2 separate regions of the Homo sapiens genome follow, and region 2 is linked to region 1. Evidence: fine-mapped expression QTL. A gene starts in region 1. The other region holds a variant in brackets. All regions are shown on one strand. Distances are between the middles of the regions.

Region 1 (8,339 bases):
TTGGGTGGGGACACAGAGCCAAACCATATCAGTATATAAGACTGGGCCAGGTGCAGTGGCTCACACCTGTAATCCTACCACTTTGGGAGGCCGAGGTGGGTGGATCATTTGAGGTCAGGAGTTAGAGACCAGCTTGACCAACATGATGAAACCCTGTCTTTACTAAAAGTACAAAAATTAGCCAGGCATGGTGGTGGATGCCTGTAATCCCAGCTACTTGGAAGGCTGAAGCAGGAGAATTGCTTGAACCTGGCAGGCAGAGGTTGCAGTGAGCTGAGATTTCGCCAATGTATCCCAGCCTGGGTGACAGAGCAAGCCTCCATCTCAAAAAAAAAAAAAAAAAAAAGTATACAAGACTGATCTGTAGTGTTGTATGATGTATGATCTGTATTTCATTGATTTTTATTGTTGTATGAATATATTTCAATTTATCCATTTTCTTTACAGTTAACATTCAGATTGTTTACAGTGGTTTTTGTTTTGTTTTGTTTTTGGGACAGCATCTTGCTCTGTCGCCCAGGCTGGTCTTGAACTCCTGGCCTCGAACTCCTGGTCTCAAGCAATACTCCTTCCTTGTCCTCCCAAAGTGTTGGGATTACAGGCATGAGCCACTGTGCCTGGCCTTCTGCGGTTTTTTGATTATTCTCTGCTTTGTGGTATACAGATATTGCTGAAAATGTCGAAAAGGCCTGCAGATACCCCTTTGGGTAACAGTGATAAGAAAAAGAGGAAGCATTTATGTTTATCTGTGGCACAGAAAGTCAACCTTAGAGAAGTTGGACAGCAGTATAAGTGTGAAAATCTTACAAAAGAGTATGGGATTGGAATGACCACCATATATGATTTGAAGAAACAGAAGGAAAAACTGTTGAAGGTTTATGCTGAAAGTGATGAACAGAAGTTAATGAAAAGTAAAAAAACAAAACCAAAAAAACCCTCCCAGCACTTTGGGAGGCCGAGATGGGTAGATCACGAGGTCAGGAGTTCGAGACCAGCCTCACCAAGATGGTGAAACCCCGTCTCTACTAAGAATACAAAAAATAGCCAAATGTGGTGGTGCACAACTGTAATCTCAGCTACTCAGGAGGCTGAGGCAGAAGAATCGCTTGAACCTGGGAGGCGGAGGTTGCAGTGAGCCGAGATGGCGCCACTGCACTCCAGCCTGGGTGACAGAGCAAGACTCCGTCTCAAAAACAAAAAACAAAACAACCCCCCCCCCAAAAAAAACTACGTAAAGCTAAAAAAGAAAATCTCAATCATGTATTGAAAGCATAAATTCATAAGCATCATAGTGAACACATGCCACGTGATGGTATGCTGATCATGAAACAAAGATCTATTGCAATGAACTAAAAATTGAAGGGAATTGTGCATATTCAACTGGCTGGTTGCATAAATTTAAGAAAAGACAGGGTGTTACATTTTTAAAAAATCTGTGGCAATAAAGCATCTGCTGATCACAAAGCAGTGGAGAAATGTGTTGATGAATTTGCCAATATTTTCACTCATGAAAATCTGACACTAGACCAAGTCTACAAGATTGCTGAAACATCACTGTTTTGGTGTTATTTGCCCCAGATAGATACTAACTATGGCTGATGAGCTAGCCCATAAAGGAATTAAGGATGGGAAGGATGGAATAACAGTGCCGGCATGTGCTAATGCAGCAGGCATCCATAAATGTAAACTTGCTGTGATAGGCAAAAGCTTATATCCATACTGTTTTCAAGGAGTGAATTTCTTTCCATGCCATTATTCTGCTAACAAAAAGGCATGGATCAGCAGGGAAATCTTTTCTGATTGGTTTCACTTTTTTTTTGTTTTTGTTTTTTTTTCCTGAGACAAGGCCTCTCAAAGTGCTGGGATTATAGGCATGTGCCACCATGCTCAGTCCTATTTTGGGTCTTCAAAAATATTTCCATTCTGGATATCTATTCCTTTATAAGAAACCACTCCAATACTTATTACCTTAACAGAGCAATCATTTAATTATGTTCACGCTACTGTGGGTCAGGAAATTTGGACAGGCCTTGACTGAGTGATTTTTCTGCTCTCCCAGGTGTTGAATGGGGTCAACAAAGCTAGTGAAATTCCATCAGTTGCTGGATGGGATCTGAGATGGCTTCATTTACATGCATGGTGCCTGGTGGAGATGGCTATAAGGCTGGTCTCAGATGACCACCTCCCTGGCTTTACATGGTGCTCCAAGAGAGCAAGACAGGAGCTGCCAGTCTTCTTAAAGCTTAGGTCTGGAGTTGGCATAGTATCACTTCCATTGTATTCTTTGATCAAATCAGTCATAGGCCAGTCCAGGTTCAAGGGAGGAGTTTCAAAGCATATGCAGTCATTTTAGATCTGGTATATTTCTGAGATAGAGTATTTTCATGTAAATAAATATTCCTAAAGAAAACAATCTCACAAAGAAGTTACAGTCTCCTGACTTAAGTCTCATTTAAACTCAAGGAAGGCTTCAAATGCCAAAAAAAAAAAAAAGCAAAAGTTAAGAGGAATGTAATATAAAAGACACGTACAACTTTTTATGTCTTATTTACTCATTTATTGATTTATAACACAATGAACATTATAAATTGGTGTAGGTCCTCTAAAATTATGGGCAAAAATTTGTGTGATATGTCTGCTAAGACAAAACCGAGGCACAGTAACTTGCCCTTGGTCACATAAATAGCAGGTGGTGGGGCTGGAGACCTAGCATCCTGGCTTCAGAGGGAACAGTGCAGTGAGGCCCTGTTAATAAGTAACAGTCTGTCTGTAAATTCGGGATAAGAGTAGTCAGTGTCATCATGGGGATAAAATGAGCTAGGCTAGTCCAGAGCTGCACGTACAACAATAGGCGTTTAATAAATACAAGCTGTCAATGCTCAGCCTCTGTTGTATTCCAGGCTGTTCTATCTTTCGCCATAGAAATGTTGGTGTCATAAAGCGCAAGACCCAACAGGGGGTGGATGGGTGAGAATTTCAAAAGTGTAGCTAGAGCCAAAGCTGGAGATACTGCTTTCTCCATTGAACTCTTTATGGTCTAATCTTTCTCTTGAAATCGTACGCAAATGTTTCATTGTATTCCGTGATTCAATTGCTAATCTATTCATATACAACTGGTTTACCCCAAAGCTTTCGGTATCTTTTCTTTTTTTTGAGGCGGAGTTTCGCTCTGTCGCCCAGGCTAAAGGGCAGTAGCTCGATCTCGGCTCACTGCACCACTGCCTCCTGGGTTCAAGCAATTCTCCTGTCTCAGTCTCCCGAGTAGCTGGGACTACAGGCACACGTCACCACCCCCTGGCTAATTTTTGTATTTTTAGTAGAGACGGGGTTTCACCACATTGGTCAGGTGGTCTCGAACTCCTGACCTCAGGTGACCCACCCGCCTCGGCCTCCCAAAGTGCTGGGATTAGAGGGGTGAGCCACCGCGTCCGGCCTCTTGATGAAACCTTATTACAGAATAGATATTTATACATAATATGTAAAACGCACAGCTAAAACATTTATCTTACTAAAGTTGGTAGTAAAAACTTTTCAAAGTTACTATAGGGAAGTGCATTGTCCAGACGTGTAACCGGGAGGTACTTGGGTACCCCGCCTGCCAAGGAAACCAATATCGGATCCCCCTACTTTAGCGCCCCCGCCAAAAACCGAGCTCACACCAAAGCACCGTGGTTCCTCTCGATGTCAGCGGCCCGCCTGCCCTCGGGGCAGCACCTGGGCAGGCGTCGCACCTCCCGCCTCTGGGCGGGACGGAAGCAAAGCTCGCGCCTCCTGACGTCATCACCGCGCGCCACTGTCTTCGCCTTCTTGCACTTCGCGGGAGAAGTTGTTGGCGCGAATGGATCCTGAGCCTCGATAACAGATTCCTCAACCGGCCCACCCGCCAGCCAGCCAGCGCCTTCATCCTGGGGCTGCGATGGTGAGCCGCTGGGGGAGGCCGTGCGGCTCGGGGTCTGGGGGGGCTTTGCAGGCCTGGTGTGGACCGGGCACTCCTGGTATGCAGGGTGGGGGAGGATGGCGGTGGGTGGTTCCGGAGGCTAGCAAAGGCAGAGAAGGGGCCGCACACCGGGCACTGGACGCAAAACTTTCATTGCATCGCGGGCTCTGGCTCTGGGCGGCAGCCAGCGCGCAGGGATTTTGTTGCTACGTGTACTTGCACTTTCCCCCCGCCCCCCACTCTTGGGGGAAGGGAGAAAGGAAGAGAGGAAGGATGGTGGTTTTGGGACGCATTGGTAAAGTTATTTTCTTGTTCGGCGTTGCCCGAACCTCAGTTTGAGTACTGCCTAAAGCGTGGATTTCAAGCTTTGGGTCACGAGGGAGAAGAATGTAACAAACTTTTCTTTCTTAGGGAATATGTTGTGTAGGGCCTTAAACTTTTATCATTAACAGCTCAGCTCGTCTCATCTCCGCTCGTCATTAACGATCACCTGAGCGGTGTTGAGACCGAGGGCATGGAGAGGATATTTTATTTTGTTTAGATGAGTTCATAGGAGTCAAAAGGATAACATGGCTTACTAGGAAAAAGAAGTACAGCGAATAGAAACAGATGCAAGACATTTGACAGCTGTCATCCTCTTACCACCTGATGTTTAAAATCTGAAAAAAACCCAAGCCTCACTGCATAATTCTGGATAAAATGTTCAAACAAATTGAAAGTGAAATGATTATGCAGCCAGCAAAGCAGACATTCCTGATGGTATGGCAATGGATATGGCTCTGTGTTTGAAATATTTTTAAAGGACCATTTAAAATGTTCATTAAGCTAGAAGATACTTAACAATCCGATATAATTTTTTTCAATCATTGGTCAACGTGTCACAGTGACAACATTCTGGGGGGGGGCGGTGAAAATTTTATGCCACACTGGGAAACGTTGCAGGCCTTTGTGTTTCTTCTCAAAAAAGGGCAACAGTAATGATAGTAGCTACCTTGTACCAAGCATCTTCTTTAGGTCAATATGTGAACTGTTGGTTTTCCATGGTTTTTTTTTTTTTTTTTTTTTTTCATTTCAACCCACATCGATGCAGTTTTACAGATGGTGCAAGCACCTTTTTGGAATTTAAACAGTGTATCATATAACTAGTAGGTGGTTGAACTAGAATTAGAATCTTGGTGTTTCTGACCACCATGTTATACTACTTCCCTATAATGATCATCATTACATTTTGGAGGCCAAAGCACTGTGGTATTTTGGAAGCTTGAGACTTGGAGTCTTGAAGATGAAGAACGTGGTAATATTTTAGTTTAATGGTTTATATATTAATTTATAGTTATATTACTATGTTAGTATAGTCTAGTTTAATAGTTACGTGGTCTTGGGCAAGTAAATAGCTTAAGTTTAATCTCTTTAAGCCTCTGTTTCCTTATCTGTAAAAGAGGGGAAAATAATAGCTGCCATAGTGATTGTTTTGGGGATTAAGCAAGATGTATAGGTAAAGCTTCCGTTCTGGTTCTGGTGCCTGGCATGTTAGGCAACTACACAGCTACCAGTGATCTATTTTCTCAGAAAGGACTCTATGGAAAGTTACATAGATTTTAAGAGGCATGGTAGATTCCTCTGTCATTTATGGTGAACATAGCTTGTGTGGTCAACTTTTGATCATTCAGGTGCTTTTACTTTTGGTTCTTTTCTTTCTTTAGTACTCCTGTTCATGGTGCAGATAAAAAATAGACCTCTTCTCAGAAAAGAAATAGGTCAAATTGGTCAGTTTTGTTGTTAGTGGGTAAACATCCTATGAGGTAGATAAGAATTTTGTATTATACTGATATTTAATTTAGCCCTCCAGTCTCTAGTGCAACAATTAGCAAAACCCTAGACTAAAATTGATTCAACAAATGTTTATTGAACACTTGTGCAAAGTTATAAGACAGTAGTTCTTTTTTTTTTTTTTCCCTCAGACTGTGTCGTTGGGTATGAAGGACAGTAGTTCTCAATCTTTGTTTCAGTTACAGTTTCCTTTGATAAATACAGTGAATGATATGCAAATTTTCTGCCCAGAGAAATGCATATGGGCATATACACACCATTTTAAGGGATTGACCTATCTTCTTCTTCTTTTTTTTTTTTTTTTTTTTTTAAAGGCAAGGTCTTGCTCTGTTGCCCAGGCTGGAGTGCAGTGGTGTGATGATAGCTCACTGCCATCTCTAATTCCGGGGTACAAGCGATCCTTCCACCCTGGCCTCCCAAAGCATTGAGATTACAGGCATGAGCCACTGTGCCTGGCCTGTTCACTTATCATCTTCTTCTTCTTCTTCTTTTTTTTTTTTTTTTGAGAGTCTTGCTGTTTTGCCCAGGCTGGAGTGCAGTGTGCAGTCTTGGCTCACTGCAACCTCTGCCTACCAGGTTTAAGCGATTCTTGTGCCTCAGCCTGCCTGGTAGCTGGGAATACAGGTGTGTGCCACCATGTCCAGCTATTTTATTTTTTTATTTTTAGTAGAGATGAAGTTTCACCATGTTGGCCAGGCTGGTCTTGAACTCCTGGCCTCAAGTTGATCCACCTGCCTCAGCCTCTTAAAGTGCCGGGATTACAGGCATGAACCACTGTGCCTGGCCTATTCACTTATCTTCTGAAGCCCATCCATAGACAGCTCTTGCCCTGGGAGCTGCATTGAAAACAAAAATTCCAATTAAAAGTTATCAATAAAGAAATAAAGTACGTGTATTCACACAATGGAATACTGTGCAACCTTTATAAAAATGAGAAAACTTTATACTCTGATATGAAACAATTGCCAAAATATAAAATTTCTCTGGAAAGATACAGAAGGAACCAACTGATAACATTTGTTGCCTCCAGAGATGGGAAATATGTGTCTGAGAGGCAGGATAAGAGGGGGACTTTTTACCCTTTCGAAATTTGAACCACGTAAATAAATAGAAAGAAAATTAAAAATAAAAGAAATAAAGAAGCCATGTAGACAATTTGAATTTCACTGAGATTTAATTGTTTGCACAAAACGTGAATAAAACCTGAGAGATGCCATTTTTAAGAAGTCAGCATATATAATTAATTGGTTGGTATAATTATTGAAAATATGCATAAGATTGAATTAAACACACATGAGACTTAAGGAACAGCTGTTTGAAGAGCCGTGAGGTCAGTTTAAATAAATTGTGGTCTGAACTGTTTCATTGCTCCACTCCTACAGGCAGGCAACTTTCACATCATGGTTTACTATGTGGAATGCTCTCCCTGGAGCAGTGCTCGACTTTATTATAATATAGCTTTTGCCAAATAATATGCTTTTGCCATGCATATGTACCTGAACTTGGCCTCTAAGGCCCCTACCTACCTCTCTGATTTTCTCTCTCTGTCTTTTGAGTGTGTTAGGTTGGTTCTGTTTCTCTCCGGGCTTTTGTTGCTATTTTCTTTCTTTGAAATAGTCTTCCTCCACATCCTTGCATGTCTGTCTTTTTTTCATCATTTAAGTTTCTCTTGCTAATCCAAGGTCATGAAGATTTATGCTTAAGAGCTTTGTAGTTTTAGCTCTTACATTTAGGACTTTTATCCATTTCTGAGTTAATTTTTATATAGGGTGTGAAGTATAGAGGTCCAATTTTATTCTTTTATATGTGGACATCTAGTTGTCCCAGAACCATTTTTTGAAAAGACTCTTCTTTCTCCATTGAATTATCTTGGCACCCTTGTCAAAAATCAGTTGACTGTAAATGCGAGAGTTGATTTCTAAACTCCCAGTTCTGTTCCATTGATCTATATATCTATCTAAATGCCAGCAACACACTGTGTTACCGTGGCTTTGTCATAATTTTTGAAGTCAGGAAGTATGTCCTCCACCTTTGTTCTTTTTCAAGATTGTCTTGGCTATTCCATTTCCTTGAATTTCTATATGAATTTTAGAATCAGCAAAGATGCCACATGGAATTTTGATAGGGAATTTATTGAATCTGTAGGTCAATTTAGGGAATATTGCCATCTTAACAATATTACATCTTCCGATCCATGAATGTGGGATGCCTTCATTTGTTTAGGTCTTCAGTTTGTTTAAATAGTATTTTGTAGTTTTTCACAGTGTGAGTTTTACACTTCATTTGTTAAATATATTCGTAAGTATTTTATTCTTTTTGGTGATTTTTTTAATGGAACTGATTTCTTTTTTTTTGAGACAGTCTCGCTCTGTTGCCCATGCTGGGGTGCAGTGGCACCATCTTGGCTCACTGCAAGCTCCGCCTCCCGGGTTCACCCCATTCTCCGGCCTCAGCCTCCCGAGTAGCTGGGACTACAGGCGCCCGCCACTGCACCCATCTAATTTTTTTTTGTATTTTTAGTAGAGATGGGGTTTTACCATGGTCTCGATCTCCTGACCTCGTGATCAGCCCG
Region 2 (8,339 bases), 39 kb after region 1:
CACTCAGCTATGGGGTTTTCTGTCATACTGCTTATAAGCACGGCTAAGTGTAGTGGAAATGGAATGTTAGTATTTTAGGCATTTTTAAGGTGGTAGGAAACTAGTAGAGCACCATCATTTCAGAGACAATTTAAGTTTGTTCTTTCTCCATTAAGGGACTCCCTCTTGCCCAGAAGTACAATTGTTGAACTTAAAGCAAATAAACATTATAAAATTTAATAAGATAAGAAATTTAACATATACTGGGTATAGCTGGTCAGCTGTCAAGTATTAAAAAAATTTGAGTTTCTATAATACCATGATCATTGTGTAATTATTTTAGAGAAAAGGAAAGGACTTTGAGATTATATTCTCAATGGTTAGTTACTAGGACTATTATGGGTGATCCACGTGGCTGTTATAAATGGAATGGTGATGTTACCTAGCCTTTTGCAAAGCCTTTTTCCCGTCTGGCAAAGAGGCAGAGAAGAACCAGTAGTTAGGTAGGGAGAATATATATATATGTGTGTGTGTGTGTGTATATATATATATGAATGACTGAACCTAGTCTGTTGACTCTTTGTAACGTGGTTGAACTGAAATCTGTTAATTGTATCAGGCCTTGGATGTGCTTTAGAAAGAGTTATGGATAAATTTTTAATTAAAGCTTGACGGTAGATTGACTATAGTTGAAGAGAAGTGAAACAAGTATGTTTTAATTTAACTCTTTCGGTTGCAAACACTTTAGTGTAAGCAAAATGGGGAAATTTATTAGGAGCCTGCTAACTTATCTCATTGAATGTAGAAATAAACCTTTTGCACCTTGGTTTGTACATACTGGTTGAGCAAATCAAGGATAAAGTTGGCCCCACCTTGCTGAAGTGCTCACTCCTGGTCTAGCTGATTGTGGTCAAGAGTGTGGAGCCATCTAATGGATATATCTGTGGTTTTTGGAGGCCCTTGGAGGGAGGGGTGAGCTGTAAATTATTAGAGAAAATGTGCTTGTAGTGAAGGGCACTGGCATCCTCAGAGATTTCTACTACATGCTTGCTTTAAATAGTGGGTTACTTTTTACATTTAGTAATCAGAAACCTGTAAGAGTGAAGTGTTGCAAAATTTATAGTTTCATTTTAATATAAATATAATAATTAGAAGGTAAGGCTGAATCCTTTTGATTTTTACATATCATTAGATACTTTCATGTTTGAAATGGCAGCCACCTAAGGATAACACAGTGCCTGGGACGTAAGGCCTTTAGCAAATGTTCATAGTTGAATGAGGGAGCAGTTGAGAGGACATAGGAGCCACTCATATGTGGCTTTGCATACCAAATTGATACAGTGAACCGTCCCCCATCCCCACCAAGACCTAGTCTTCATGGTTGTCTTTTATTTAAAAAAAAATTTTTTTTTTGAGAGGGAGTCTCACTCTGTCGCCCAGGCTGGAGTGCAGTGGTGCAATCTCAGCTCACTGTGACCTCCGCCTCCCAGTTCAAGTGATTCTCCTGCCTCAGCTGCCCAAATAGCTGGGATTACAGGCATACTCCACCACGCCCAGCTAATTTTTATGTTTTTAGTAGAGACGGGCTCTCACCATGTTGTCCAAGCTGGTCTTGAACTCCTGACCTCAAATGATCCGCCCATCTCGGCCTCCCGGAGTGCTGGGATTGCAGGTGTGAGCCACTGCACCTGGCCTATTTTCAATTGTATTAAAAAAGTTTTTTTTAGAGACAGGTTGGAGTGCAGTGGTACAATCGAGGCTTACTGCAGCCTCCATTTCTTGGGCTCAAGCGATCCTCCTACTGCCTTAGCCTCCTGAGTAGCTGGGGCTACAGGCCTGCACCACCATGCCCAGCTTAATTTTTCTTTTTCTTTTTTTTTTTTGAGACAGAGTCTTGCTCTGTCTCCCAGGCTGGAGTACAGAGGCACAATTTCAGCTCACTGCACCCTCTGCCTCTGCCTCCGGAGTAGCTGGGACTACAGGCGCGCACCGCTACGCCCGGCTAAGTTTTGTAATTTTAGTAGAGATGGGGTTTCACCATGTTGACCAGGCTGGTCTTGAACTCCTGACCTGAAGTGATCTGCCTGCCTCCCCAGCTAATTTTTTTTGGTAGAGATGGAGTCTCATTATGTTGCCCAGGCTGATCTTGAATTCCCAGGCTCAAGCAATCCTCCGCCTCAGCCTCCCAAAGTACTGGGATGACAGGTGTGTGCTACCGTGCCCGGCCTCATGTTTGTCTCTTAGATTTTCATTTTTATTGGATTTCTTTTGTTTATAGGCCAAATCGAAAAGCTTTTTTTTTTTTTTTTTTTTTTTTTTGTGAGTCACTGAAGCAAACAAATTTATTGAGGCCCTTTTGAGGTACATTTTTGGAGCTCCTAATTATCTAAACGTTGTCATGAATGCTTAAAAAGACATTTAAAGCCAGATGTTTTGTGGAAACTTTTTAGAAAAATAAAATGTAACAAAGAATTTATGGTCTTAAATGAATGGTTAGATATCAGTAGATGGTTCACCTGCAATATATAGCTAGAACCTGACAACTTACTACCTCTGCAAATACCACCACAGTCCAAGCCTTCCGTATCTCATCTGAAACTGCAGTAGCTTTCTAAGTGGTCTCCCTGCATTCACTTTCCCCGCTCTGCAGTGTGTTTTCCAAATGACAGGCCTTAAGTTGGGTCACAAACTATTCTCAGAATTCTCCAGTGGATTCCCGTTCTATAATAAAGACTAAAATTATTCCTATTGCCTAGAAAGTCCTCCAGGATTTGGCCCCTACCTCTTTCACCCGAACTCTTCTGGCACGCCTCCGCATTGTGCTGCAGCCACATTGAACTCCAGGCACACTTCCGTCTCGGCTTTTCCATTTGTAGTTTTAATTGCCCAGATATTCTTGCCTGAGGTATCTTCATTTCAGGCCTCCGTTAAAATGTTGTTTATCAAAGAGGCATTCCCTCACTACCTTATCTCAAAGAGTACCCTTCATCACTCTTTAATTCTTTCACCCTGTTTTACTTTTTATTCATAGAACATTTAACTTGACAGTGTATATTTGTTTATTTGTATATCTGTTTCCTCTTCTAGACTTTAAGTTCCATGAGGGCAGGGATTTTGTCTTTTTTATTCACTGCTGTATCTTAAGTTCCTGGTACATAATGAGTGCTCAGTAAATATTTGTGTACTCTTGGTAGTAACTGGGGGATATAGCGTATTACAGGCCTGGCACTGGTAAATGTGGGGATGATGGTTGAATTTTGGAGATAGGGGGAAAAAGTTATTAGCATCTCTAAGTTCTTGGATGTTTATTTTGTTTTTGAGACAGGGTCTTTGTTGTTCAGACTGGAGTGCAGTGGTGCAATCACAGCTAACTGCAGCCTCAACCTCCTGGGTTTATATCCTCTTGCCTCAGCCTCCCTAGTAGCTGGGACTACAGGTGTGTACCACCATGCCTGGCTAATTTTTTGTTAATTTTTTTGAAGAGAAGGAGTTTCATGATGTTGCCCAGACTGGTCTCGAACTCCTGAGCGCAAATGATTCTCCTATCTTGGTCTCCAAAAGTGCTGGGATTACAAGCATGAGCCACCATGTCTAGCCTCTTGTATACTTTTTATAAAGTTGGTAGAAGTGTTTTCTTTGTATAACCGAATTGATGTTTTATAAAAAATATTTGGTTACATTTCATTTAAGATGAAGAAGATGACTTTATGTGTAAGAAGGCGGCCTCTAAATCAAAAGAGAATGGAAGATCTACAAATAGTCATCTTGGAACATCAAACATGAAAAAGAATGAAGAAAACACTAAGACCAAGAATAAGCCTTTATCACCAATAAAACTTACACCCACATCAGTACTTGATTATTTTGGAACTGGAAGTGTCCAAAGATCTAATAAGAAGATGGTGGCAAGCAAAAGAAAAGAGGTAAGTGTTCTACATATAAGCAAGTATGCTCAGGATTTATACCCATTCACTAATATTAACAGGAGAAACTAGGATGTAGTAAATAGGCAACATGTTTTAATAATTAAAATAATTTTCCTATGATTATGGATAAAATGTATTGCCCTCATTTTAAAGGATGAGGAAGTTGGAATGTTACATATTTAATTTTTTAATTCTTGAAAGCGGGAAAAGATCATTTAAGCCATAAGAAAAAATGATAATTATTCGAATTTAAATTGAGTTCTCAGAATGGAAACTCATTTTACTATTGACCTCAACCAGTCAATATTAGCGATAAATTTGTTTCCAAATGAGATAATAAATAGATTCCTTATAAATAGAGCATACCTATGCTACACTTGTGACCTTCTCTACTTTGGCAGATATTGGATTCATCTGTTTCTGGCCATTTAGGAAACAGACATACCAGATAAATTATGGTGAAAGTAGTCCCCTGAGTTAAAGAAAGCCTGCCCCATAGTGTGTGTTTGTTGATTCTATCACTTCCTCCATAGAACAATGTAATCATTCTCACATATTGGTTTGCCAATGTTCTGGGCTACTTGTCAAGCCAAGACATTAATCTACAGGATTGGGTTTTTTTATTTTTATTTTTGGTACTTCTCTTGAACATATCAATAGAACTAAGTGAGACAGGTCTGTCTATAGGATATTTATTAGGGATTGGATATGGTCAGGGAGTAGCCATAAATTTGACTTTCTGGCTGGTGTACATTGCAGCTGTTACTGATAGATACACTTATCTCTCACTGGTGTATTTA[A/C]TCAGCAACAGTCAAGAAAAAGTGCCTTATTTTTAACTTAAGGTTTATGCTGATTTTGCTTGATTTTCTTTGAAATATAGCTTTCACAAAATACAGATGAGTCTGGATTAAATGATGAAGCCATCGCCAAGCAATTACAGCTTGATGAAGATGCGGAGGTATTGGCATTTTGCTTAGAATCATTAGTAACTTGATATTCTGACTAGCTATTTAGTCCAGCCAGGTTTTGAATTGAACCTCATTGGAAGTTACATGTAAAATAAGTTAAAATCTAATAAATGAAAATCTAAATTTCTATACAAGATAAATGATGAGACCAGGGGAGAATTATTTACTGAAAGATTTATTTTTAGAGAAGATTGATCAAGTGCTGTGAGATGATTTTGAAGAAATGGCTAGCAGCAAATCCTGTAGGTCATGATAGGTCTTTGATACCTACAAAAAGGATGTTAATTATAAGGACTTTGGAATTTAGTTTCTTCCAAATGGGAAACCATTGGAGTTTTTATTTTTTATTTTTTGAGACAGAGTCTCGCTTTGTTGCCCAGGCTGGAGTGCAGTGGCATAATCTGGCTAATTGCAACCTCCACCTCCTGGGAATCAAGTGATTCTCCTGCCTCACCTGCCCCAGTAACTGAGACTACAGGCGCCCACCACTACGCCTGGCTAATTTATGTATTTTTAGTAGAGACGGAGTTTCACCATGTTGGCCAGGCTGGTCTTGACCTTGGCCTCCCAAATTGTTGGGATTACAGGTGTGAGCCACCACACCCAGCCCCATTGGAGTTTTGAATAGAAAAGTGACATGACTTGGTGGATCTTAAAAGAAAATTACTTTGGCTTCGATGATGTTAATAGTTCATGGTGGGGGCAAGATCAAAAGCAGATCAGTTTGCAGACTGAATGGTAGGTGAGAGATGTCAGCTTGTAATAGGAAAAGGCAGTGAGAAGTGGGCATAATCTGAATGTGCCTTGAAACATGCAAGTTCTTTTTGACAGATTGGATGTAAGGTGTGAGGGAAGAAGATTCACAGATGAGGCTGGGTGTGGTGGCTCATGCCTGTAATCCCAGCACTTTGGGAGGCCGAGGTGAGAGGATCACTTGTGCCTGGGAGTTTGAGACCAGTCTGGGTAACATAGGGAAATCCCATCTCTACCAAAAATACAAAAATCAACTGGGCATGGTGGTGCACACCTGTGGTCCCAGATACTTGGGAGGCAGAGGTGGGAGGATTGCTTGAGCCTGGGAGGTTCAGGCTGCAATGAGCTGTGATTGTGCCACTGCACTCCAGCCTGGGTGACAGAGCAATACCTTGTCTCTCGGAAAATAATATTCAGTTATGGCCTTAACAACTGGGTGAATGGTGATACGATTTACTAAGGCTGGAACACAGGAAGCAGAACAGGTTTGGTACAGAGAGATCTTTTGGACAAGTTAAGTTTGAGATGTCTAATAGACTTCCAAATGGAAAGGCAGAGTAGGTGGTTGGGTAGAAGAGTCAGGAACTCAGGGGAGAAGTCTAAACTGAAGATGGACATTTGGAAATCATTACCAGTTGAGTAATATTTAAACCTGTGTAACTGGATGAGATCATGGGGAGATAATGCAAATAGAAAAGAAAGAAAGGTCTCAGGATTGAGCCCTGGGCCACTGTTAGAGGTCAGGAAAAGGAGGATGATCCAGCAAAGGAGAGGAGAGAGTGGCTAGTGAAGTAGGAACATCAGGAGAGGTTGATATCTTACAGAAGCCAAAGAAAGTATTTCAGGGAGGAGCGCTCATCTCTGTCAGAGGTTCCAGGCTTAGCTGCCGGCTGTTAGAACTCCCTTCCTCTTGCTTAGCTTAAGTGTCACTTTCCCAGACTACCTCAACTATATTAGAAACCCCTCCGATATACTCTGTCACACTCTGTCATAGCTACTATTATCATTTATTATACTTGCTATTTAATTAGAATGGCAAGTATAGGCTCTAAGGTCCCCTCACCAGGACTCTCACTCAACCATTTGTCTCAACCATTTATGTCTCACTCAACCATTGTTACATCAGTGCTTATCTTAGTGTCTGGCATACAATGGGCTCTTGATAAGTATTATTGTGAGAGAACAATATTGTGATTGTTCACATTTTATTACTTTGGCAGTTTAGTTTGTGTTTTCAAAATGTTTTTCTATCTTATTTGATCACACTGAATTACATAAACTACAAGCGAGTATCCACATGACTCAAGGTAGCACAAGTAGCCTAGGTCAAACTAGGAAGTAATTTTTAGGAACCTGACTTCTCCTGATCCAAATACTAGAGGGTTACCTAATCCTTTCCAAACCAGGTGTGGTACTTTGTATCACAATCCTCTATTTTTCCATTTTTATCACATTCTTTCAGAATCTTGTTTGGGTAATTTATTAATCTGATTAAGGACTTCTAGGTGTCAGTAACTGAAGATGTCTTTACTAATTATCCCTGTAAGAGTTTTTCCTCCCTTTTTTTTCACTTCACTTTTAAAAGATTGAGTGGATTTTGAAGTCCTTTTCTTTGTTTGAATAATGTAGGGTGTTTTTTATTGAATATCACGTAAGGCCATTTTACCAGGGAGCATACAGCCATTTGGTTTATAATGAGAAAGATACTCCACTGCTATATATTCTCTTTTGGAAGAGCTCCATTTTGCTGAATGTGAAAGTATTTTGAAATAACTGAGATAACTAGAATGTCTCTGTGTTACATTAGCATGTTAGTAGAACTCCTGACATGATGACTTAAATTTTCAAAAGTGAGAACAGATGCATTTGAATTAGTAATTGAAAATAGGAGTTTGATAGTAAAAGTGATTTTACATTTGTATATAGCTTACTATATGTGCCAAAAAAATACTGTATAATTTTTTTAAATTCTTAGATTCACTATTTTTGTACTCCCCAGATGATTGTGTTTTCCTATTAGGTTGAGATTCCTTTCAGAGGTCTTTTTAGATAATAAATAGAAATAAGAAAGCTGTGTTGCATAAGAACCATTAAGAGAAAAGTACAGACCTCATGTTTTATAAGTAAGAAATATGACTTTAAAAATATGCTCACTTTATCTGTCATCCCTGCAAAACCAGAACTGTATGTTCCAAAATCTGATTCAGCTTAGTGAAACAAACCTGTGATACTTCACTATTAATGTTGAGTGGGAAAATGTCATAATTATTTTCTGGAAAATGTTTTTCTAGTTTCTTCTAAATATATGAATCAGACATTTAAAAATTCTATTTACGAAAAGAAAAAGAGCAACTCAACTCACTTTGCTGACACATTTTACAGCTGGAGAGGCAGTTGCATGAAGATGAAGAGTTTGCCAGAACATTAGCCATGTTGGATGAAGAACCCAAGACCAAAAAGGTGGCATAATGTTGGGCTATTTGCGTTCTGAATATACAGTACAGATCAGTGTTCATACTTGCGTGTTCTAGGCTCTAGCCAAAACATGAATAACTTTTCCAGAAAGAAATTAAATTATTTTATAAAAATGTTTTTGGGGAAGCTCATTGAGAAACTTATTCTTCTTAAAAGAAGGGTGACGGCATCAAAACAAACCAGAACCTTTTATCACAAAACAAAGAATTATATCTTTTCCTTATTCTTTTTATATTTT

Evidence for each region.
Region 2: its variant is fine-mapped to the expression of RFC1 in whole blood (INTERVAL, PIP 0.94).

Annotation. Positions count from the first base shown.
Region 1 is chr4:39,361,819-39,370,157 of GRCh38, reverse strand. RFC1 (replication factor C subunit 1) reads left to right here and starts at 3,796. Exons shown (of 25, transcript NM_002913.5): 1 at 3,796-3,919. The coding sequence starts at 3,917. RefSeq lists an enhancer at 3,755-3,874.
Region 2 is chr4:39,323,087-39,331,425 of GRCh38, reverse strand. It overlaps RFC1 (replication factor C subunit 1), which reads left to right. Exons shown (of 25, transcript NM_002913.5): 5 at 3,670-3,902; 6 at 4,786-4,863; 7 at 8,009-8,086. Among named protein-coding and RNA genes, the nearest start is that of RFC1, 39 kb to the left of the region's middle. The variant A/C (reference allele first, on the strand shown) is at 4,706.